4 linked regions of the Homo sapiens genome follow. The protein of the gene in region 4 purifies or fractionates together with the protein of the main gene of each other region. This does not show direct contact. Each region holds a gene or a part of one and is shown on either strand. Other genes may lie near its edges. The genes, in order: STXBP5L, STXBP5, PRMT3 and STX19.

The links.
Region 1: the proteins of STX19 (region 4) and STXBP5L purify together in Homo sapiens (affinity purification with mass spectrometry; 3 studies listed by BioGRID and IntAct, with this or other methods). This does not show direct contact.
Region 2: the proteins of STX19 (region 4) and STXBP5 purify together in Homo sapiens (affinity purification with mass spectrometry; 3 studies listed by BioGRID and IntAct, with this or other methods). This does not show direct contact.
Region 3: the proteins of STX19 (region 4) and PRMT3 purify together in Homo sapiens (affinity purification with mass spectrometry; 3 studies listed by BioGRID and IntAct, with this or other methods). This does not show direct contact.

The regions. Positions count from the first base shown.
Region 1 is NC_000003.12:121,256,078-121,262,158, reverse strand, and holds part of STXBP5L (syntaxin-binding protein 5-like), read right to left. Parts: intron 4,999-6,081; coding exon 4,826-4,998; intron 3,117-4,825; coding exon 2,991-3,116; intron 2,141-2,990; coding exon of another isoform or gene 2,134-2,140; exon of another isoform or gene 1,645-2,133; intron 1-1,644. UniProt on the Homo sapiens protein: Plays a role in vesicle trafficking and exocytosis inhibition.
Region 2 is NC_000006.12:147,314,096-147,320,176, reverse strand, and holds part of STXBP5 (syntaxin-binding protein 5), read right to left. Parts: intron 5,914-6,081; coding exon 5,846-5,913; intron 5,582-5,845; coding exon 5,541-5,581; intron 4,663-5,540; coding exon 4,442-4,662; intron 3,949-4,441; coding exon 3,770-3,948; intron 1-3,769. UniProt on the Homo sapiens protein: Plays a regulatory role in calcium-dependent exocytosis and neurotransmitter release. Inhibits membrane fusion between transport vesicles and the plasma membrane.
Region 3 is NC_000011.10:20,389,162-20,395,242, reverse strand, and holds part of PRMT3 (protein arginine N-methyltransferase 3), read right to left. Parts: intron 5,500-6,081; coding exon 5,417-5,499; intron 3,033-5,416; coding exon 2,983-3,032; intron 2,977-2,982; exon of another isoform or gene 2,486-2,976; intron 2,347-2,485; coding exon 2,244-2,346; intron 1-2,243. UniProt on the Homo sapiens protein: Protein-arginine N-methyltransferase that catalyzes both the monomethylation and asymmetric dimethylation of the guanidino nitrogens of arginine residues in target proteins, and therefore falls into the group of type I methyltransferases.
Region 4 is NC_000003.12:94,024,420-94,031,043, forward strand, and holds the start of STX19 (syntaxin-19), read right to left. Parts: upstream 4,179-6,624; 5' UTR 3,948-4,178; intron 1-3,947. UniProt on the Homo sapiens protein: Plays a role in endosomal trafficking of the epidermal growth factor receptor (EGFR).

The sequences.
Region 1 (6,081 bases), about 27 Mb from region 4:
TCAAGGTGATGGTATTAAGAGTTGGGGCCTTGGGAAGGTGACTGGGTCTTTGGGAGGATTCCGCCATTATGAATGGAATTCATTTTCTCATAAAAGAATTCTGAGGGAGTTTGTTCACTCCTTCTGCCAAGCGCAAACAAAGCTAGAAGGTGCTATATTTGAAGCAGAGAGCAAAGCAGAGAGACAGACACTGAATCTCCTGAGACCTTGATTTTGGACTTTCTAGCCTCCAGAACTGTGAGCAATAAATCTTAGTTGTTACAAATTACCAATTTGTAAGATATTTTGTTAAGCAGCCCAAATGGACTAAGAAACTTCTCTTATTTTTTCCTCAAAGACAAAGTCTCTAACATTTCACCATAGAGCATATTTGCTAAAATGTATCAGATTAAGAAAAATTCCTTCCATTTTAGCTATTAGTTTCTTTTGAAGTCATAAATGGATATTTAATTTTATCAGATGTTTTTGTTTTTTGCATTCCTGACCAGACCATCATATGGTTTTTCTAGTTTATTTGCTAATGTGATGAACTACACTGATTAATTTAAAATGTTTAAAAACTTTGAATTCCTGGTGTAAACCAAACTTGGTTATGATATGTTATCTTTTTTAATTGCTAGATTTATCTATATTTTGGTTGGGATTTTAAATCCATGTTCATAAATGATATAGACTTACAACTTTCTCTTTTTGTAATACCCTTTTCAAGTTTTTGCATCGAGTTATGTTGGCCATAAAATGAGATGAACATGATTTCATCTTTAATAATTCTCAGGAACATTTAAAGTAATACTTGTAAAATTTATTTCTTTAAAACTTGGTGGAATTTACTCTAGTAGCCACATGAACTAGGATTTTTGCAGTGGAGGCTCTCTATGAGATAGATGTCCAAGCTGTCATTTTCATACAAGTGTCAGTTATTCAGAAGCTCTGTAATAACTTTCACCTCCACAGTTCCCTTATAAGGGAAATGTGTTTTTTTATCTGATCTATTCTAACAAACTTCAGCTTCTGAACCAGGTGACACATCTTTATAGTCTCTGAATTCTGAAGTCCCCTTGTCTTTACAGGTCAAACTCTAGAGAAGTGAACTCAGAAGATGGCTTGAGCTCAACTATCTTTCACAGTAATTACTTGGGCTAGAGAATAATCATATATTCTTACCGTATCAAATAATGAAACAGTAGGCTATCCCACAGTCCATTCCTTCTCTCCCATCATCCATCAACTGTGGTTGCCAGCTTTCCCATCAAATAATATTCTAGTAAAGAAGCAAGCACCCAATACTCTATGTTCACATATATCCTCCACATCCCCCTGAAGAAAATTCCAGGTACTCAAAGATAAGACTTTTTTCCATGGACTCCTTACTGATGGTTTCAAGGCATTCTCTTGGAGCTTATAAGACTCAGCTTAGGAAGTACAGAAATAAAAGTGAAATATATAAGGTAATGTATTATTTGATAAAAGTTGATTCCAAATAAGCATAGAAAGATGAAGTATTCAGGAAACGGTATTGGCACAATTCTTAGCCATCAGGAAAAAATATAGTTTAATACTTACTTCATATCTTATACTTAAAAAAATTCCAGACAGATCAAAGATTTAAACATATAAAAGAAAAAAAGCATATTAGAGAGAACATAATTTTTTTGTTTTTATTAATTTTTATTATTATCTTGAAGTGAGGAAGGACTTTTTAAATAAGACACAAATTCAGAGCCATAAAAGATAACAAAAAATAGAATTGCAAAAAATTCTTTAAAGTAAGAACCATCTTAAACAAAGTCATAAAGCAAACAAAAGCAGGGAAGATCATTGCAAATTACACTATAGAGAAAGCTAACTTCCCTAATATGCAAACAGTTTTCACAAATCTCTATGAAGGCCAACAACTTTACAGACAAATGGACAAAGAATAGAAACAGAATGTCACAAAACAGGAAAAGATGTTCAATTTCACTTAAGATATACAAAAATTTTACTGATATTATAATAACATACTACTCTTTACTTAACAAACTGACCAGGATGGAAAGTTTGATTATACATTGTAGTTAGAAAGGTTGTAGGAAAGTAGACATTCTAAACATTGGTGGTGGGAGTATAGTTTGACACAACCTCTGTGGAGGGCTACAACCTAGAAATAAGGATTAACTGAAATTAAATTAGGCTTTAATGGGAATAAAATCCAACTTTCAAAGACCTGATGTCTGCTTGAATTATGTTGTTCTGACCCTTCAATAGTTTTTTAACCTAGACTGCCAGAGGAAATGTAGATACTTTCTGGAGGAAAGTATCATCTAGAACCTCAAATTATAATGTTCATTTCTCAATTAAAAAAAAAACCAGGAACAACTAATAAAAAAATCATACAAACTGGCATACATGAACATAATATAATGTGACCCAAAACTAAGAAATGTAATAGACTAGATACCAAATATGGAAGTATCAAACACATATTTAAAGTAACACATTTTAAAGTCATACATTCAATATGTTCAAAGAAATAAAGAATAGAGTGATAATTTAGGAAGAGAACAGGATGTTTTAAAATAATCAAATGTAAGGTCTAGAACTGAAAAATAAAATAGCTGAAATTGAACTCCATAGGTGGATCTACCATCAGATCAGACACAGTTGAAGAGGGAGTTAGTGAACTCTAAAGGATAAGTCAAAAGAAAGTATCCAAAATGAAATATAAAGAGAAAAAAAGACAATATAAAAACAAACAACACAGTTTAAGTGTAATAAAATCCTAACAATCTCCTACTAACATCAAAATTGGGAACACTATCACAGGTTTGACTTCAAGAAAGAACAAAAAACCATAATGTAAATTTAAATTATTTTTCTTATATATTGTTTAATCTAATAAAAATCCAGGTAAGGGCTTCTTTTCATTTTTAGGACTTAAGCAAGGAACATCTAAAAAATCAAACATATTAGCTAAATAATACATATCATAAAAAAGTTTAATTACTTACATTCCATATGCTGAGCTTACAGCAAGACTAGTAATCTGTTGTGGAGGTTCACCATCTACCCACACCAATTGAATAACAAGTTCTGCTTGATATCCTGGAGGCATTCGCACTGGCCGTGTCTTCACACTTTAAGAACAAAAACAATCCTATTATATACAGCTTAAATAAACATGGTCAAACTTATCTTGAGAATTTACATAGAATCATGCTACAGAAATATACAACACCAGGCATTGCAGGCAGCATGCAGATGGATGGTGCCTTCTAGTTTTCTCAAAATATGCTGAGTCCCTTATGATTACTTAGTTATTTCTTTATGTGGCTTTTCAGCCAGTTAGGTCCACAACTTCAACTGGCCTTTATCATTTCAATTTTTTCTTTTGAGAATATTATTTTAAGTTATTTTTATTATGTAATTATTTTTCTAATGTAATATATGTTACATATATATCAGTTATAAAGCATAACAATAAAACAAATGACCATTAACCTACCCTCCAGTGTAAGAGTTCAACATATCTAGCATCTGAATTCCTATTTTCCTTTAAAGCTGACTAATATCTTTCTCTCATACTTCCCAACAAACCAATTATCAAATACTACTGATGCTACTTTCAAAAAATATATCCACTAGCTAAAATTTTATGATGATGTTTTCTCTTTGTAGATTTTCCTCCCAGTAATATTTGCTCATATTTCCTTCTTTTTATGTACATCAAAAGAAAATTTTGAGAGGACAATCAATGATTACAAAAGTATAGCATCTGCTAATTGCATGAATTTTGCTCCTAAAATCTTATCTCTAAATTTTCCATAAGCATATTTGTAAGAAATGAGAAAACTAGCTGTCTAAAGTTTTTTGAGTGGCAAATGTAGATATGCAGCTCAAAGAAATTCCCTGCTTAGGTTTAATTCTCCAGCCAGCTAACACTAGAAATATTTGATTTGATGGTATAGAAGCAGTAAGTAGTAATTTATACTCTATTACTAAAATCATAAAATATTACTATGGGCTTTGTTAACTTTAGGTTTTATTGAACATGATGCAAATCTTTGTTTAGCTTATTAATAAATAGTTTTAAAAAAGAAAGATTATGAAATATACTAGCAATCATGAGAGAAATCCTTTTTTCTAATATAGAACTCTTGTAGTAGATAGTAAACTTGGTTTTCTTTTTGATTCCAAGAAAGCTAAAGAAATTACATAAACATACTTCTTTAAAAAATTATCATTATTATTTTTTTGGAGACAGGGTCTTACTGTCACCCAGGCTGGAGTGCAGTGGCAAGACCATAGCTCACTGCAACTTTAAACTCCTGAGCTAAAGTGATTGTCCCGCCTCAGCCTCCCTAGAAGCTGGAGCTACAGGTGTGTACCATCACACCCAGTTAATTTTTAAATTTTTTGTAGATACAAGGTCTTGCTATGTTGCCCAGGCTGCTCTCAAACTCCTAGTCTCAAGCATTCCTCCCACCTCAGCCTCCCAAAGTGTTGGGAATACAGGCGTGAGCCATCACACCCCATAAACATACTTTTTCAATTGGAAATATCATGCATGTCACCAAGTTTCTGCCCTGCCAAACTTCCTATTCTGTGAAAGCCATGTTTTCTTTAGAGTCCTTCTGGGAAGGAAATATATAAATAAGTGAATGAAGGGTGAAAATATTATGCCCTCTTCACAGATGTTCAAAGAAAAGACCAGAGTAACCCCTGAAGAATTGTAGATCACCTGACAATAGCTTGATAATAAGAGAAAATTAATTTCATTTGTCACAGTTTCAAAGACATATGATTAATATCTAAAATTGTTTGAAAATTTGGTAGAAACTCTTACTTGAGGCATGGAATACTGTCCTTTGTTACTCCTTCACTAGCAACAGTGTTAGTGCTCCCAGAAAGACTCCTTGAAGAAGGAAGCTGGGCTGAGAGATCTGGAAACGGAGGACTTGTTTCTGGTTCAGGGGTAATAATATCTTCAACATCATACTGAAGTCGTACCTCTAATGACTTAAAAAAATCAAGTTTAAATTTAATTTAAGTCACACTAATAATCATCGTTTTAATTTAATCTAAGTCATAATAAATAATCACATTAAAATACCTGATAACTTTTTAGGAATCATTCACACAGTTTTTTTCAAATTAATAAGTTCAATACTATTTACAGGAAAGTTGAGAAGTATCTCATACTAAATCAAATAGTTAATTATATGGAATATTCAATGGCAATCACAAAAAATGTAAATTTTTAAACTTCAGAATTAAAAGAAAAATACCTCAGTGAAGATAAAGTTTTTATATAATAAATATACTTTAAGATATAGTATAAATTACAATTTATATATTACAATTTGATATATGATAAAATAAAAGGAGAAGTTGATTATGGTTATTCCAATGAAAGAAATTAAACTTTTTTCATATACACACACAAACGTGTATATGTGTGTGTAGTGTGTATGTTTGTGTGTGTATGAAAAAATTACTTGTTTAAAGCCTTTTAGTATAAAAAACTTTCATTGCATTTTAACTTTGCATTAATTCACTAAAAATTTTCCAAACAAAATTCCATATTTTTGGTTGTTTATTTCATTACCTTGGCTTTTGTTTAATCTAATTAGCAGATCAGAATTACTTGATAAAAAACATATAATAATTTACATAGGAATAAAAAGGTGACCTAAAAACCTTTATTAAACTAAAAAAGTTTTAAAACTAAATACTTTATGAATGCATAAAATGCATTAAATGATTTAATTAGAACTGATTTTATAACACATATTTGCCTTATAATGTAAAAATGAGCATTTTTAAGATTGAAAACAATTACTTACAAAAATGTCATTATGGGAATATCACCAAAATTATTGTCATAATTATTTTAAAACTACAGAAAAACCTCTGGTGGTGACAAAACAGTTACCAATTATTGAGTGCTTACTACAGTAAGGACACTATTATAATGTCTTTATATAATCATCACAAGAACCCTATGAAATTGGTATTTATATTCCAAGTTTATTTTTATTTTCCATTTTCCCATTTTATTTACACAGGGAATTGTACATGTGATGAAACTGAATCATAGCT
Region 2 (6,081 bases), on a different chromosome or scaffold from region 4:
GAAATTATTTTATTTCTTAATGTGTTAAGAATACAGATGGGGGCCAGACACAGTGGCTAACATCTGTAATCCCAGCACTTTGGGAGGCCGAGGCAGGCAGATTGCCTCCAAGTTTGAGACCACCCTGGGTAACATGCCGAAAACCCATCTCTATAAAAAACTACAAAATTAGCTGGGCAAGGTGGTGTGCGCTTGTAGTCCCAGCTACATGGGAGGCTGAGTTGGGAGGACTGATTGAGCCCAGGAGGTCGTGGCTGCAGTGAGCTGTGATCACACCACTGTACTCCAGCATGGGCAACAGAGCGAGACCCTGTCTCTTTAAAAAAAAAAAAAAAAAAAAAAAAAAAAGAATCCAGATAGGTAAAGAGAAGTATAATTACTGGGCTCCTTCGTAGATTCTAGTAAGCAATTACAGGTGACAGGACTCTGGCTGAATCTCCTATGTGTGTCTTTAAAGTCTGAACTGCTTCAAAGTTCCATCCATTTTATAAAACATACTGACAGGGCAGTTTACCTCTATCTGACACCAAACGCTACTTCCAAAAAGAACTGTCCCTTAAAATATTAAGTCTCAAGATAAAATGAATTTATAAAGTTTTATTATACATGAGGTTAGTTGTTATAAAGTTTTATTATACATGAGGTTAGTCTACAAAAAACCAAAACAGAAGAAAAATTATTAAAGTAACTCAAAACAATGTAATTGCCTTATGAATCACTTGTCATATGCTCAAAGGTCTAAAGGACAGCTGTCATGTTATATTTTACTATTCATCTAGTGTTTTACTATCAGTGGTAATTTTAATACTACAATTTTGGACTTACTTTTGTTAACAGATAAATAATATTAAATGGAATAATTCCAGGCTAATCAAATTATAGGAGAAGAGTGGTTTGGGTAAGAGATTTAAAATTATTTATTTACATTATATAGTAATGTAAAAACTCAATGAAAAATAAAAGAGTTTTAATGACTGTTTTTTAAAAAACAACCCCCCCATTTTTTTTAGCTCTTGTCACCAGGTGGTCTACTATAACAATATACTGCTTATTAAAAATAATGTTACAAACATTTCTAAAGATCATATTTTGGTCTGTTACCCTGTGAGGGCAAGTAGTATTCAAAGCAAGTCTAGAACATCTTGACAGAAATTAAGGATGGTCACAAAGTTCTGAGGTGGTGTTAAGAAGACACAAACACCAACTTAAAAGAAGCTCCCTCTAGAAAACTGTGACAAAATCACGTTAAGTTGATTAAATTCAGTAAGTTAAAACAAATTGCCTATAAAAAATACCTAGAGTTCCACAGTGATATTCAAAAGGAAAAAAAACCATCAAATCACAGTCATTAGTTATTTTAGGATTCAGAAAAAACTGTTAAGATGTTATTGCGTGTATATCCCAGGATTGGCAAAGTGTATCCATACACAAAAGATAACAATTAATGCCAACAACAAAAAGGACTCTCCTCACATGTATCATTAATGGATTGGCTAATGAGACTCTCTGTCTACTGGGACTAACCAGCAGCTTAAAAGGAATTCTTATATTAAGTGACATTCCATTAAATAATTACAAAAGATTAATAGTGTGCCATAACATTCCATCACAAGTATGAAAAGTCCTCCCAAACAAGAAAGATGGCCATACCATAATCTCAGGTCCATGAACAATAAAGAAAACTCATAATTGCAGAACGAAGTCAGTATTACCTTTAAAATGGATTTGGGTACTGTTGTACTCTGCATTTTGGTTTGCTGGTTTTAACAGCTGCTGCTGGTTGCTGCCTTAACTATTATCCTTGCTCTTTCAGTCAGTAAAAAAACTGGAAAAAAAAGGCCTTTCTAAGAACAGAGGACAAAGACTCACCTATCAGGCTGGCCTTTAACTTTAACCTAGAAAGCCAAGGTAAGAGGTCTTGTCACTCTGGTCCAAACAGTACTGCTTCTCCTGTCAGTACTATTTCCTCTGACCTATCTTGTCATGAGAAAGCAGTGCATTGATGGTGTTTTTTCTTCAGGTAGGAAAAGAATTTAATGTTTTATACTGCTGGATCTCTGGCCACAAGCCTAAAAAACTTGGAGGCATCAGAAATTATGAAGTACAAATTAAATAAATCATTCTAATTCTGTTGAAGATAATGTATGTTTATATGGAATTGTTATTTTGTTAAAATGTCACTTCAGTAGTTGAAAACACTATTTCAGAAATATAGAAATACGTTACAAAAAATGCCCCAAAGACAAATTGTACTACGTATGTCATAAAAATTAAATGTAACAAAGGGCTTGGGAAAAAAACATTGAAATCAGAAACAAGGGCATTAACGGAACATTTACAATTTTAAGTATAAAGTAGTATTGAAGAAGTAATAAAGGGGAAAAGTGTAGAATTCTGTATTCCCAAGTCTCATTCTAGTTAAAACATGTGCTAGAACTACAGTTATAAGTGTGTATATTCTAGTACAGGTATGAGAGAGGGAGAGGAGAGAAAGAAAAACTTGATACCTTTCTGAGAAATGTAGCTGCTTAACCTCAATGGGTATATACTGTTTGGATCAGAGGTTCTCATCCTTGGCACTACTGATGTTTTGAGCTGGTAATTCTTTGTTGTGTGCACTGCCTTGTCCATTGTAGAATATTTAACATTATCCCTGGCCTCTACCCACTAAGTGTCAATAGCATCTCCCTTCCTCATGTTGTGTCTACTAAAAGCATCTCCAAATGTCCCCTAGGGAACAAAATCATATGCAAATGAGAGCCACCAGCTTAGACTACATGACCTTCAATTTTTGTAAACATATAATTTTCTAAAACTCTGTATTTTTAAAATGATTGTAATATAAAAAAAATCTATCCGTTTTATCTTTGGTGTGAGTGCATTATTCATTACACAGACATTCTTCCCAGAAATTATTTATCTACCAGTAGAAGAGACTCAAGCAGATTAAAGTAAAATAGTGCAAAGCCTGGTCCTTTTAATAAATGCAAATTATTTCTCTTACTTACTACCCTCTCTACCTTGAACCTAGTACACTCTGGCTTTTGCCCTCTACCAATCTACTGAATCTCTCTGAGTGCTACCAGAACCACCTTTCCGTCATTATCCTAGTTGAATTCTTTGTAAATATACTATTAATCACATAGTCTTCATGTACTTTTTCAATGATTTTAACTTCTTACTCATTGTTTTATTTCTCTGCCTCTATCATTTAAACATTTTAACCACTCAATAATAAAAATTGGACAGAAAAAATAAAACTTCATCCAATTTATCTCTGTATAAAAGCAAGATATATTTAAATTTAGGATGCAACAATAAAACGTTTTAAATAAAGATACGGTGGTGCTAGTGAAGATTCAGAAAAAGAAAATGATTAGAAAACAACTGAGTCTTAAAAGACTTAAACAGAATTTTCAGAGTTGTAGAAAGCAGTCGGAACATAAATCCAAGCTACATATAAATCAAGACTAAAAACACTGATGGATTTAGAAGACTGAGCGATATATACAGGTTAGATCCTTGCTGCTTTACGAGAATGTTTGGAGATTAAACCTTAATATTTTAAGGATAATATCATGAAATGCAATCATATTCCTCTTGATGTCATAGAAAAATGAGTTGGACTAACCATAGCAAAACACAGGAAGAACCATTCTTATGCCATTTTGCTATATCAAAAGAAAATGTTACCATAGCTCTAATGCTTACAATTTATATAAATTAAAAGATAATATCCAAAACTCCTCTGTAGTTTTTTATAACTTACTTTAAACAAGGTACATTATCACGAAGCCCATCAGATGAACTGCTACTGGTAGATGGATGAGACTGAGGAGGGATGGGCTGAGGGTTGGACCCTCCCACGGGTGTTGGCAAAGGTGGTGGCTGCTCACCCTCCGGAGTTTCCACATCATTTATCTCATATAATAATCGAACTTCAAGCATCTGTTGTAAAAGTAAGGTAGTTTACTTACTCCTAATAATTATTGCTCATTTTATCACAATTTATACACACATACACACACACTTTACATAAACTTCAGTGGCAAGAAGATTTTTAAAGGTAAAAATTTAGCAAGATTTCAAAAAATAAGGATTTAGCAAGAAAGAAAACGTTCTTGACTCAGGGAGTACACACACAAACGTGCATTATGATTTTAGAATGTATGGTACTCGTGTTAATATCAAATTAGAGTATACTCATATTCATATTAGCTTTCCTTAAAGGAAACATATCCTATACTTAAGGATTTAAATAATCAGTGAAAATATATGCAAAAAATGCTGTTTTTTACAAAAGAGAGATAATAATATAAATACTAAGGTGTTTTCAAAAGTTCTGCACAAAACTGACTGCAAAAAGTCTTCCAAATCATCCACAAATTTAAAAATGTGGATGAAAATAACTTGACCATGAAAATAACTAAGACGTTATTACCGGAATGACTTCTGTGATTACTTCCTGCTTGCTGAATCTATAAATAATGACATGAGCTGAAACTCCAGCGATGCACAGCATTCTACTTTCTGGACACCAGGAGATGATCTGAATGGCATATGGATCTTCATCTACAATGTCTGTGTTTGGCCTGTCATCTTTATTTCTTGACTTTTCAAATACTTTAGATGTCTTTAGCTTATATAATACTTGTAGAGTTACTGGAAAAAAGATAATATATGTCAGATACTTTAATATAAAATGATCAAACATAAGGTAACATTTAATCACTCATACTATGTATAGAAAATGGTCCATATTTAACTACATCATATTTTCATTTCTCAATTTACGTTAGTCTATTAAACATTTAGATAATATATTCTTTGTTCTCATTGACCAAACAAGAGTGTGCTCATTGTATTCATGAAGAAAAATCTATTATCACAATGGATTTTAGGTAATCTTAAAAAAATGAGTAATAAAAACATTTTGGAAAAATAATGTGTAAATACATGAAAATAATAAACAACACAGTTTGCTTCCTAAAATGATTTTCTATGTATCTTCTCTAGAAAAGATACAGTACCAATATAATTAAACATTCCTACATGAGGAAACACAACATATCCTGAGTTAACTGGATTCCAATTGAATGCTTGCCATGTGTGTTTTGAAACATTAATCATTAAAGGCATTATTTCTTTTTTTGCTACTATGTAACCACCAGATTTATTTCGCAAAGACAACATGAACGTTAGTGATACAAATTTAGAGTCAGGCATTAAAATTATTCTAGAAATTTCTGTTGATTTGGAACACATTCCCACTTCCCCTAACTCTGACTTAGGAAGATAAGGTTTGAAGAAATTTTGAAGGAAAAAATAAAATTGAATACTTGTGTTGCCAATTATTCTTGATTTACTAATATTAAGACTATATTAAAAATTCTAAACTCATGTATTTAATAAATCAAGCATTAAATTTATAACCTCTACATTTCAAATTAAATATTGGTTATGCAATTATTATAAAACAGGATGCATAAAAGCAGTGATTGTATAACATATAACAAATAATGAATATTAAAAATACTTACTTGCAGAAGCATCCCAGAACTTAACTGACCCATCAGCATGCCTAAGAAAAGCAATGTTAAGAATGTGATGAATAAAATTACAGTTCTTCCTTCTTTAAATGGGTACTGCTATTAAAAAGTCAACAAAATGAGTAAAAAGGTAAAAAAAATCAGGGTAAACTGGCAGGTTCTTAAGAATAACATTTCTTATTATATTACGACATAAAGGAAAGCTCTACCTGTCCAGTAAGTTAACATTCATGTAGTCTCAATCAATTATATTTAGCTATTATAGATTTACTTGGTGAAGACAGACTTTTACTTACCCTGTAATAATTATTTCTGGGTAACTTTGAGCACCCAAGCCCCAATTACCTCCGTTGATGGGCCATTCCTATAAAAAAAGATGACTGTATAAAGCAACTTGCAAGCATACTACATACCTCCGTGTGTGTGTGTGTGTGTGTGTGTGTGTAAATAATCCAGTGAAAAACATATTTTGCTTGCAAAAATAATTTTTAACCTATTTTCCATAGAAAAGGTATAATGTTATCAAATACTC
Region 3 (6,081 bases), on a different chromosome or scaffold from region 4:
TTAATTATTAATTATACTCAACCAAATCCAGGAAGAAAGAAAAAAGTAGAAAGAAAAAAACCTAATATTTATTGATCAGCAGGTATCTTTCCAGTACATCATTACATCTTGTTTTATTCTCAAAACACAGTTAAGATGTATTTATCCCTATTTTAGGCAAGGAAAAAATAAATTTCAGAGAAATTAAGTGACTATCCTAAAGTTATATATCTGTTTATGGAGGAACTAAGATTTAAACCCAAACCTGCCTTCCCAGCCCACGTTCTTCCCATTACACAAAGCCACCTCCTAGCCCATGTCCTTATTGTAGCAGGTATTAAATTCAGATATTGCTTAAGGGAAATCCTGCCATATATGAAAATATGAATGAACATGGAGGACATTATGTGAAGCAAAATAAGCCAGACACAAACAGACAAATACTGTGTGATCTCACTCTTGTGTGGAATTAAAAAAAAACTCACAGCAGCAGAGAGTGGAATGGTGGTGGAAATGAGGAGATGTTGGTCAAAGGGTACACACTTTCAGCTACAAGATGAGTAAGTTCTGGGCATCTGTCTATTGTAAAGTGACTATAGTTAAAAATGCTGCACTGTATACTTGAAATTTGCAGACAATAGATCTTAACTGTTCTCACCACAAAAATAAAAAAATGGAATGTGAGGTGATGATGTTAATCAGCTTGGTTATGGTAATCATTTCACAATGTATATGCATATCAAATCATCACATTGTATACCTGAAATGTACACAATTTTCACTTATCAATTATACCTGAATAAAACTGGAGGAAAAAAAAAACATTCCTAAGGACAGCGTGTAAAGAATTCTACACATTCAATAATTTTTCATCCTGGGCAAGGTGGAGTGAAATCTATACACTAAAGTCTTATTGCTGATATTATTAAATATCCTAATTCCTAGTATTTAATTTTAATTTCACTTCTCTACAAAGAGAAGTTAATATATGTAGTTAGTGAATTTCACAAAATCAGTGTCCATTTACTGATCTAACTTTCGGATCAACTTAAGGCAGTGAGCAGTGCAAATATTACATTTTCCCCTCAGGATAGCACTGGAAGAAATGTGACTTCGTAAAAATTCCTATTCATTTTTTAGTTGTGAAGACACGTCCTTGGAATTAGGACAAAATAGCTAAGCCAAACGAATGCATTATACTATAAGAGACTACAGCCTAAGTTGAATTCTTGTTATAAAAGCAGTGCAGGGTGTCACTAACTTCTCATCACTGTGGCAGAATATTGAGTCACTGAGGTTTAAAAACTGCATCATTCACTATCTAATTCACCAAAAATTAATCAGCACAACAAAATATTTCCAAACTATATAAGGCTGGTATACTGTATTTTCTACTTCCTACTACAAACCTCATTTTGTATTTTGATTTCAAAATTCTTCAAACTGTTTGGCCAGTTTCTGTTTTGCTTTCTGCTGCAATAAAAATTAGTCATAATAAAAACTTTTTAATGTTAAGAATATGCAGATAATTATATATTAAAGATTAAACTTAGAGATTTGAAAAAAAGAGGATTCAGTAAATATTAAGATTCCTAACTACAATTTGCTAGAACAGTCTAATTCAAAGGCCTAAACCATATTCAGAAAGATGAACATCTACATCTACCTTCTGTCTCAGGATGTTCAAATCACCTGGATACTTCTTTCGGGCAGAGAAGAATTACTGCAAAGGCTGACCAATTTTTCAGTAAAATATAACAATTATAAATGTGTATAAACCTCACATAAGAGCTCCAAAATACATGAAGCAATTAAAGGCAAAACCAGACAATCTTTTGATCACAGAGTTTTTAGTTTTTTTAGACAGAGTCTTGCTCTGTCACCTGTATACCAGGTTCAAGTGATTCTCCTGCCTCAACCTCCCGAGTAGATGGGACTACAGAAGCCCGCCACCATGCCCGGCTAATTTTTTGTATTTTTAGTAGAGATGGGGTTTCACTGTGTTAGCCATGATGGTCTGGATCTCCTGACCTCGTGATCTGCCCTTTTAGCCTCCCAAAGTGTTGGGATTACAGGCGTGAGCCGCCACACCTGGCCGACTATTAGTTTTTAAGCAACTTAACTTTTCTACTGAAACTAACTACCTGATGAAGCATTTAGATAATTTTAAAAAGCATGTCTTTTCCTAAAACACTCTACCTCCATTTTGCCGTTAACAAACGGCCTTATGTTAATTAAAGGAGATACACTTATGTTCATCTTACCAAATTGAAGTAAAAGGTCATCTTCTAATACTGGCTTCAAATACTCTTCTTTCTCCCAAGGCACTGGGTTGTATATGGAATTCATGTACTCAACTGTAGGATTCTGGATATAAAATTAATCTCATGTTTTTTTCATTACATATAATCACAAAATCCCCTTAGTAAAAACTACAGAAATTAAACAAAAAGGAAATCATGTTTGCATTACACAAAGTCAGTATGTCTCCAAAAAGTCTACGTGCCTGTCATTTCATTAACTTGCTGGACGACTGCTTAACCAGCAGTTTCAACGCAGAGTTTTTTTTACTGTTTGGATTTGGGGAAAGCGTTGTCATGTCATTAAACATTCATTTAAACAGGACAAAAAAAAAAAAAAACAAAGTATCTGAAAAAAAACAGAATAAAAAAGAGCAACCAAAATACTTAAAATCACATTAGAAATTATTTCTGATTTTACAGATCCTGTCCATCAGTATTTCCCTTTATTTGACACTGAATTACTTTTTCACATACACCGATTCATCTCTTAGATGCAGTGAAAACAATATTTGTTAGTTATGGTAGACATTTACATGGTGCTTTCTGCTGTGCTACCTCCTAATGTCCGTGATTCCCCCAATATGATGAGTACCAAATTTAATGCAGTTCCTCATATTCTTTTAAATAATCAGTACACTGACAGTCACTGTAGCATTTCTTTGATTTCTAAACGAAATTATAAATTAAGCTGTCAACTTACCTTAAGTCTAATAAAATTTATTAGCTTAATGTATCCATAAAATTCAAGTCCTAAAGGGGGAAAAAGATAATTCACCTATGTTAACATAATGAGTTTTGTTTAACTGACCTATTCTATAAAGCCTTCTCTGATTAAACAATAAAATAATTCTGACCTCTAAATTACTACTTATATTTTGAATTTTATTAAGAATTAGAAGTAGTAATACAATGATACTTCTGAATATCTTGAGAAGCAGCCATAAATGACAAATTAAAGCTTTTCTAGTATTTCTAAAAAGATGGAAAACTGATTTCTAAAATTCTACTCCTCCTTTGTCAGAACAATACAAATCTGGAAAATTAAGATCCACATTTTACCAAGTATTTGGCAACTGATATCAGAGCTGAAAGTATTAAATCCCTAATTTTTATGGTGTGTATCAAATTATAATTTTGCCAGGACATGGTGTATACTAGCTTTTACATGAAGTTAAATGATGCAAGCCCAATAAGGCTTGTTATCTGGTTCTCGTATCTTTCCAGAAATGAAGCAGCATTTAAAACAAAGGAAAGCAGTAATACATCCAACCAACCAATTATTTGTCATAAAACTCTTGTTATGAGAAAACTTTAATAGTATACAAACCCCCTATATCGGTAAGTAAAAAAAAAACAAAACAAAATTCTATCTTAAGTATGATTCTAATACTTTAGAAATGCAACATTAAAAACATTAAGGCTGGGCACAGTGGCTCATGCCTGTAACCCCAGCACTTTGGGAGGCCAAGGCAGGCGGATCACCTGAGGTCGGGAGTTCCAGACCAGCCTGACCAACATGGAGAAACCCTGTCTCTCCTAAAATACAAAATTAGCCAGTGTGGTGGCGCATGCCTATAATCCCAGCTACTTGGGAGGCTGAGGCAGGAGAATCACTTGAACCCGGGAGGCGGAGGTTGCAGTGAGCCGAGATCGTGCCATTGCACTCCAGCCTGGGCAACAAGAGCGAGACTCCGTCTCAAAAAAAAAACAAAAACAAAAAACATTAAAAAATGAGGCTGTCATTTATGCCTTACGAAAGTACTTGCAGTTGAATTTATGATTTATAAACATGTGATATCACGTATTTATCTGACACTGAAACACCTGTTAGTATTTGCTATTCTTCAGTAATGTCCCTTCTTAGTTGTCAACAAATATAGGGACCAAAAAACCTATTATTTTTTTTTTTTTGAGACGGCGTCTCAGTCTGTCACCCAGGCTGTAGTGCAGTGGCATGATCTTAGCTCACTGCAACCTCCGCCTCCCGGGTTCAAGTAATTCTCCTGCCTCAGCCTCCCAAGTAGCTGGGACTACAGGCACATGCCACCATGCCCGACTAATTTTTTGTATTTTTAGTAGAGTTGGGTTTTCACTGGGTTAGCCAGGATGGTCTCGATCTCCTGACCTTGTGATCCATCCGCCTTGGCCTCCCAAAGGTTTTCACTGGGTTAGCCAGGATGGTCTCAATCTCTTGACCTTGTGATCCACCTGCCTTGGCCTCCCAAAGTGTTGGAATCACAGGCGTGAGCCACAGCACCTGGCCTATTTAGTTAATTTTATTGTAGTATAGCTCTTCTACATCCATTTAAAGTGGAAGGCCTTAATTGTAAGGCAAGTGTGTTTAAATAAAAGTTTCAATAGAAACATCACCTGAGTATTTTGCATATTAATCTTAACTTCATCACTCTTTTTCCAGTCTCTACCGAACTTTGTATAAAACTCAGTCTCGTAGGCTGTGAAGTTCATGTCATGCTTTGAGCTGATTGTCTTTTTTCAAATGACCTGCGTCCTTTTTCAAGTCCTACATCTACACTTGCTCTCCCTAAATCTAATATGTAATCACATAAAATGTAAAAATGTAATCACATGCCAAGTCTGTTTTTGTTTTTAGTTGAAAAGCTAATATAAGCTTAAATACAGTGAATCTTGTCTAGAAGAGTGACTTATTCATCTTTTCTCAAGGACCGCTTGTCAAAAAAACTCCATTTCCACAAGATGTTGCTGTGTGATTCGCCATATTAAACTCGTACAGAAAAGGGTCTGAAAAACTATAAAATCTGAACTTATATTTCACAGATTTTTTTTTTTTTTGAGAAGAGTCTCACTCTGTTGCCCAGGCTGGAGTGCAGTGATACCATCTCAGCTCACTGCCACCTCTGCCTCCCAGGTTTAAGCAATTCACCTGCCTCAGTCTTCTGAGCAGCTGCTATTACAGGTGTGCGTCACCACACCCAGATAACTTTTGTATTTTAGTACAGGTGGGGTTTCAGCATGTTGGCCAGGCTGGTCTTGAACTCCCGACCTAAAGTGATCCACCCACCTCAGCCTCCCAAAGTGCTGGGATTACAGGTGTGAGCTGCCATGCCTGCCCAAATTTCACAAATTAAATTGCCTTTATTCTAAAAACTACTCACCATGTTTATGAACCATGCTGTCAATATTAAACTGATGCTCAGACTTACAGTGTGAAAATGTTTCTTCAGCAGATGTGAATAACCTGAAAAATCAAGCAATAGCTTCATGGAATAGTCCCCTAAGAAGTCTAAATACTGATTTCATGTTACATATACACTTTTTTTTTTTTTTTAACTCTGCTGGTTTCTAGTTTTACTTCCAATTAAGAAAAAACAAACACACTTGTATCTGAAAGGAAGGGAATCCAGCACTTTTAAAGGGAATTAGTACTTCTGAGTCCCATTTTATACCTAAAACCAATTATCCTTTAAATGTCAAAGTGAATTTATTTGTCAAATAATATCACTGATTTTATCAAAAGGCTTTTAAGAGAGTTCCCTTTGATAGAGTCTGTTTCTCTCAAGTCATACAATTTCTCTACTTGAGATTCTTTTCTCCTCTAAGTGTCAACTCTGCTTTCAGAGGCTTTGAACTGGCACAGCTCAAACTGCTTTTAGAAATAAAGCATAAAATGTAATTTTACAGCTGGCATACTCCCCAAGTGCCTTATTTCAAAAGTGATCTTGTAGTATTCCCAACGTACTTGCATCACAGACACTGTGAGGATCAATCCTCTTTATTATGTGACATGCAAATCTGAAGGCTACTTAAAGACAGGAATACA
Region 4 (6,624 bases):
ATTTATACAATGGTTCAGTAGCTTTTAACAATCTTTAATTTTCACATTCCTCAAGAACTACAACATCTTGAACTTTCTCTTTGGTTGCATGGTTTGGAACAAATCCTGAAACAACTCCCTCTAATGTTTTTATGACTGGAAAGATCTTTGTCCTTTTTTGGGCGTGTTGTTTTGTTTTATTTTTGAGATAGGATCTCACTCTATCACCCAGGCTAGAGTATAGTGGCTCAATTGCGGCTCACTGCAGCCTCTACCTCCCAGGCTCAAGTGATCCTTCTCCCTCAGCCTCCCGAGTAGCTGGGACTACAGTTGCATGCCACTGTGCTTGGCTGATTTTTTAAAATTTTTTGTAAAGATGAGGTCTTGCTGTGTTGCTCAGGCTGATCTCTAACTCCTGGGCTCAAGCAATCTTCCCACCTCCGCCTCCCAAAGTGCTGGGATTATAGGCATGAGCTAGTGCACCCAGCCTCTTTTTTAAAAAAATTAGAAATAAAGTAATCAAAAGCCTTTTTCTAAAGCATCATAGTTTAAAAATTTTTAAGAAATAGACTATTTCAAATTGCTATTGGAGCACAGTGTACACAGGCCTCTGGGAAGGTGAATTTTCCTGTGAAGTGCCTTTGAGAAGGTGCATTTTACTGCCACTGATTTTGGAAAGCAGGATATTTGAGTCTGACCTCTATAAAGGTTGTTTTTTTCCTGGATTTTTATCCATGTAATATCATTCCCTGAACATGCACCACACTTTTATATTTGAATAAAAGGTACTTTAAGGAGCCCTTTAAAATATATTAATATGTCCTTTTTATTAATCTTAATGAATTTACAAGCAAAAAACAAAATATCCTTTTTTTAATATCTGTATACATTATTGATATTAAAGGCAAAACATGGAAATAGAATCAGGTTTCCTTTCAGTGTTATACATCATGGCAATGCGTATTATGTAAACGATGTTTAAAGTGAGCTATAAAGGTTATACTGTGTTTGTCTTGGTTTATGGATCCTATGCCTGTATTTCTTTTGAACATTTAGAGAATATTTATGTGAAAGATCCTTTACATTATTAGGTTATTTCTAGTTTCTTAGGAGTAAATTCCTATGTTTGCTGTGGCCACGGACTGGTGACCACTCTGTTAAATGTGGGCAAGTGTATTTAGTGAAATTCGTCAGTAGCCTAGCTTCATTGGGGAGTTATACAAGAATGCTCTGAGTGTCCTGATCAATTATGGATACATTGAGGCTATTTTTTTGATTGTCACTACCAACGCCCCATGGAGTTTGCCCCTTGTAGCCCAGGTAGTATTATGTAGGCCTAATTTTTCTCTAGTGATTTTTATAGCCTAAGTGGATATCTCACTTCCTGCTATAATCCTGGGCAAGTCAACAGAGTTATTCCTGTCTTTGTATACAGATTATGTTGTATTATTCCTAGTTAACTGTTTCATCTAGGAAACTCAGTTTTAGTTCCCTATAATGCAACAAACTCTAAACCTCAGCTTTAAGGTAAAGTATTTGCCCAGTGTAATTAGCTTTAATTACTACTCTTCACTTTGGCTTTAAGTATGTTTCCTCATCATTTCTGGCACCTGAAAACTTCTCTTTTTTTTTTTTTTTTGAGACGGAGTCTCTCTCTGTCGCCCAGGCTGGAGTGCAGTGGCACCATCTCGGCTCACTGCAAGCTCCGCCTTCCGGGTTCACGCCATTCTCCTGCCTCAGCCTCCAGAGTAGCTGGGACTACAGGCGCCCGCCACCACACCCGACTAACTTTTTATATTTTTAGTAGAGATGGGGTTTCACCGTGTGAGCCAGGAGAAAACTTCGCTTTTTTACTCTAAAATTTAGTGATGTTGTTTTAAAATTTGTCTTTTTTAAACTTACGATTACATCAAATTCTGTATGTTTAGAGAAAGAGGGAGTAACTTCTGTATCTGTGCATTTTGACTGAAAGTCACAGTTGCTTATCTTTATAGAATTAACATAATTGAGAATGTTTCCCTAAATCCTTGTTCATCTGTGTAGAAATTGACTTGATAGGTACTCAAATATGTTTATATGCTGTATATAAATTACATTTTCTAGTAGTTGCATACTCATAACTATATGTATAACTATCCAATTTATTGATCTTATATCTTCATGAATTAGAATGTTAGGCAAAATGAGACAAATAAGCATGTTAGAATTTAAAACATGCAAGGACAGGATTCATATAAGCATAAAATATGAAGCTCATAGTTGTGAAATCATTTAATTGCTTAGACTAGGTGAAATTGATGAAATTACTATTTTATGCAGTCTGTTATGTACCTTAAATTTATTATGTTGGAAGAGTTATATACAAATATGAATCATCTTTTATTATGTTTAACTTGCAGCATTGCTATACAGTTTTGAATTTTACTAGCAAGAACTGTATCTGTGAGCTTAAACATGATATTTAAAAAAGAAAGAACACTAACTCGTATGTATGATAATCAACTTGGACAACTTGTTCTGGGAAATAGAAAAGTAAACTGGTGCGACTCAAATAAAAGGTTCTCTGCCCTATTACAGACACTGAAAATCCCTAGAAACAGAAACATGAGTAAAAATTACCTTGTACTTTTAGAAATATGCCCTGGGATAGATACTTAGTGTATTTATAGATTTTTTTAAAGTAGGCCATTTCTTTTCATAGTTACTGTAATGATTAAATAAAACATTTCAAGAAATATGACCAGTTTTTACCCAAGAGAAAACAGAATATTCTGTTGCTTTTGTATATGAAGTCAACTTGCCACATTTTTCTAGTGCAAGTGAAAGCAGAGGATCTTATTGTAATATATTAACCTCTTTGGCTACTAAAGTGAGGGCCAAATAGTAGTTTCTAAAAACTAAAAAAAAATTGCAAATTGCATATATTGTCTAATTTTGAAGTATCTGACTTTTTTTGCAATGTAAACTTTCAATGCTTTTTTCTACATTTTATTTAGTCTAAATAACTTATTGAATTAACTTGTATAACAACATTAAGATCATTTTTGTTTAAATATGATGTATAATTTTTGAACTTTTATCTGATTCAAGTAAGCTGTACATACATAAAATGATTTTTATATTACATTTAAAACTGCATAGCTGTGAAGATAATGTGTTCGAGGTATTACGTGGCCAATTCTCAAGTCCACCTTTAAAATACATATAAAAGTCATTATTATTTTGATTTGAAATGGAATATTTATTAAATTCTAACATAGTAACAATTATAACTTTGAAAGTATCTAACCTATCTACATATGTTGTATTTAAATGATGCTGATTTAAATTTTTCAAACTATCAATTAAATGCTAACACTTACGTTAAATGGTATAACAAGTATTTTTAATGTACTAGTTGAAATATTATAAAGGTTAGTGAGTACTTCGATATTTTCTGGTAGCCCTTTCACAAGATTATTTTCTCATTTTTTCAATTTTAGAAGATTCTAGTAAACAACAATGAAGCAATTAAGACCATTATAGCAAATTATTTCAGATTTTTAAGGTTATACGTATGTGTCAAATTTGGGTATAAGCTGCTTTTCAGAGTGAAATATAAAAATGTTCTCTAAAGTAAGCACATTCATAGTCTGTCTATAAAAGAAATAATTTTAGATCTGTTTTTACATCTGACTTTCTAGTATTTTTTAAATGAGAGCTTACTTTTTAAAAGACTTAAAAATTTTTTCTTTCCTCTAAAGTTGATTTTTATTATCGTAGTCTATTTTCAAGAGCTTTATACCCAGATCCCAGTCAGCATGTCAGTAATATATGTGAACAAATCAGCTACTGGTACCCCGGTCCAAATCTGAGCAAAACAAGTAACCCTCATTATTTGTTGAGTGATTTTTAAATGTAACAGTGTAACCAGATGTCAGTCTATGGATACCTCATATTAAAAAGTACAGAAAAGAGTCATTATTTACCTTTCTGTTTTCTTCCTTTTGTTGGTTTTCCACCTGCGGTGTTGGAGTCCTGCCTTTGAGAGAATATCTGAATATCATCTCATGTTTTGAACAAATTATCTAAATCTCTGTCTTATAGGGCACAGACTAATTTCTGTATAGTTTTCATGTTGTTAATTTGAAAGCCAAATAATGAAGTCAAATAAGAGATAAAGTTGTACGTTTGCTGTTAATAGCAAGTGAAAATAGATTGCTTACTTCACACCTGGAGAATCTGGTTCTGCCTGTTAGACGCCTATTCTTTAGATTAAAGGAAGATCATTTTCATTGGAGCTAGTCGGTAACAGGAAGTCCTCGTTAAACTGCCTACGTAGAGTATTTGGCACTGGATCTGCAAATTTAGTCCTACATTGTATATGTAATATATTATTCCAAGAAAATGGGTTTGTATTTAAACAAAGGTTACTTTCTTTTCTATAGATATCAAAACTTACTAAAAATATGGAATTAAATAGGAATGAAAAGAAGCTTGGTGTAAAAGCTTTTTTTGTTCCATTTACTTTAAAATGGTTGAAATCTGTCCTATTTTAGGAAATCCCAAAAGAGCTTAGCTCACAAAATCATAGAATTTCAGAAGGAGAACATCCAGGAAAGAGCTCATGTCTGTAAACCATTCATCCCACGTTACTTTTAATTTTTTTTACTTTTTATTATGCCTGCTGTTTTTATTTTAAAATAAATTTTATATAGAACTAAAGTTATCCAGCAATATATGTTAAATCATTTATTTTGTCAATATAACAACTCAAAATTAATTTATACCAGAGGGAAATGTTTATAGGAAGAATTAAAAATGAAAATTTCTCTTGTACTACCAAATTTCAGACCCATTTTTTCTACCTGACTTGTTACTATTTGAGGGCAAGAAGAAGGAAATTGCTGTATCTATCAAAATCATATATATATATATATATATATATATATATATATTTATTTTTTTTTTATTTTTTTTTTTTTTTGAGAAGGAGTCTTGCTCTTGTAGCCCAGGCTGGAGTGCAGTGGCACGATCTTGGCTCACTGCAACCTCCGTCTCCCGGGTTCAAGCAATTCTGCTGCCTGAGCCCCATAAGTAGCTGGGATTACAGTTGCCTGCCACCACGCCCAGCTAATTTTTTTGTAGAAATGGGGTTTCACCATGTTTGCCAGGCTGGTCTCGAACTCCTGACCTCAGGTGATCCACCTGCCTCAGCCTCCCAAAGTTCTGGGATTACAGATGTGAACCACCATGCCCGGCCAATCACATTTATATTTATTCTTTGTTTTAACAGTTCTACTTCCTGGAATCTGTACTCAAAATAAGAAATGACTCCTTTACACACCTACTTTTTATAGCACTCTTTGTAAAAACAAAACACTGGAAACACAAAAGTCCTTCAGCGTAGAACTGGCTGAATAAATGATGGAACATTCAAAGGGGAGCATTTTGCAATTATAGAAAATAGTGAAGATTTTATTATACTGCTTCAGGGTACTTCAAAATTTACTGTTCAGTTAAAACAAGCATGCTGCAGAAGAATATATATAATATGCTAAGTTTTAGGAAGAAAGGAAGGGTAGATATAAATATTGTATATATACACAAATACATAAACCAGTCAATAGCATTGAATATTCACAGTGCCCAAATTATGGTCCTTGAAATACCATTTTCTCCATACGCTTGTTTATATTTTCAAAAAGAAATAATGGGAGGATGAACTAAACACGAATGAAAATGGTTACCTATAAGGGAAGGGAAGGAAAAGGCAGAGAGATAGCAAATAGTTCCTTTCTGATTGTACCTTGTTTTTATAGTTCTGAATTTAGAACCATATAAATATTTTTTTATTTTTATTTTTTGAGACAGGGTCTCACTCTGTCACCCAGCCTGGAGTGCAGTGGCGCGATCTCGGCTCACTGCAACCTCTGCCTCCTGGGTTCAAGCGATTCTCATGCCTCAGCCTCCCGAGTAGCTGGTATTACAGGTGCACGCCACCACGCCTGGCTCATTTTTTTTTTTTTTTTTTTTTAGTAAAGACAGGGTTTCACCATGTTGGCAAAGCTGGTCTTGAACCCCTGACAAATGATCCACCCACATTGGCCTCCCAGAGTGCTGAGATTACAGGTGTGAGCCACCACGTCCAGCCGATATAAATATTTTAGAAATTAAATCTTAAAACAAATACACAAACGATCTCTAAAATGCAAAAGCACCTAGAAAGAAATGAACCTAGGTATATATCTAGGTGATGGCAAAACCACACAGAGAAGTACTATTTTAAGTAATTTTAAAACAGTATTATTGACTCTGCATCTCTAGTGGGATATAGCGTAGAGACAAAGATACGTAACCACAAAGATATGTTAACCTGCACTTAGTAGTCTTAATATTTAGTAATCATATTGATATTATTATGTTAAAATTCCTATATATAGTTGGATAAAACAAATAATGTCATTAGAAACTGTAGTTTTCAGCATAAGTAAAAAGAGATACAAATAAGATCTAAGGCTGGGCACAGTGGCTCATGCCTGTAATCCAGTACTTTAGGAGGCTGAGGCAGGAGGATTGAGCCTAGGAGTTTGAGACCAGCCTGGGGAACATAGTGAAACCCCATCTCTGCTAAAATAATTTTTTAAAAAAAGAACGTTCGAACAC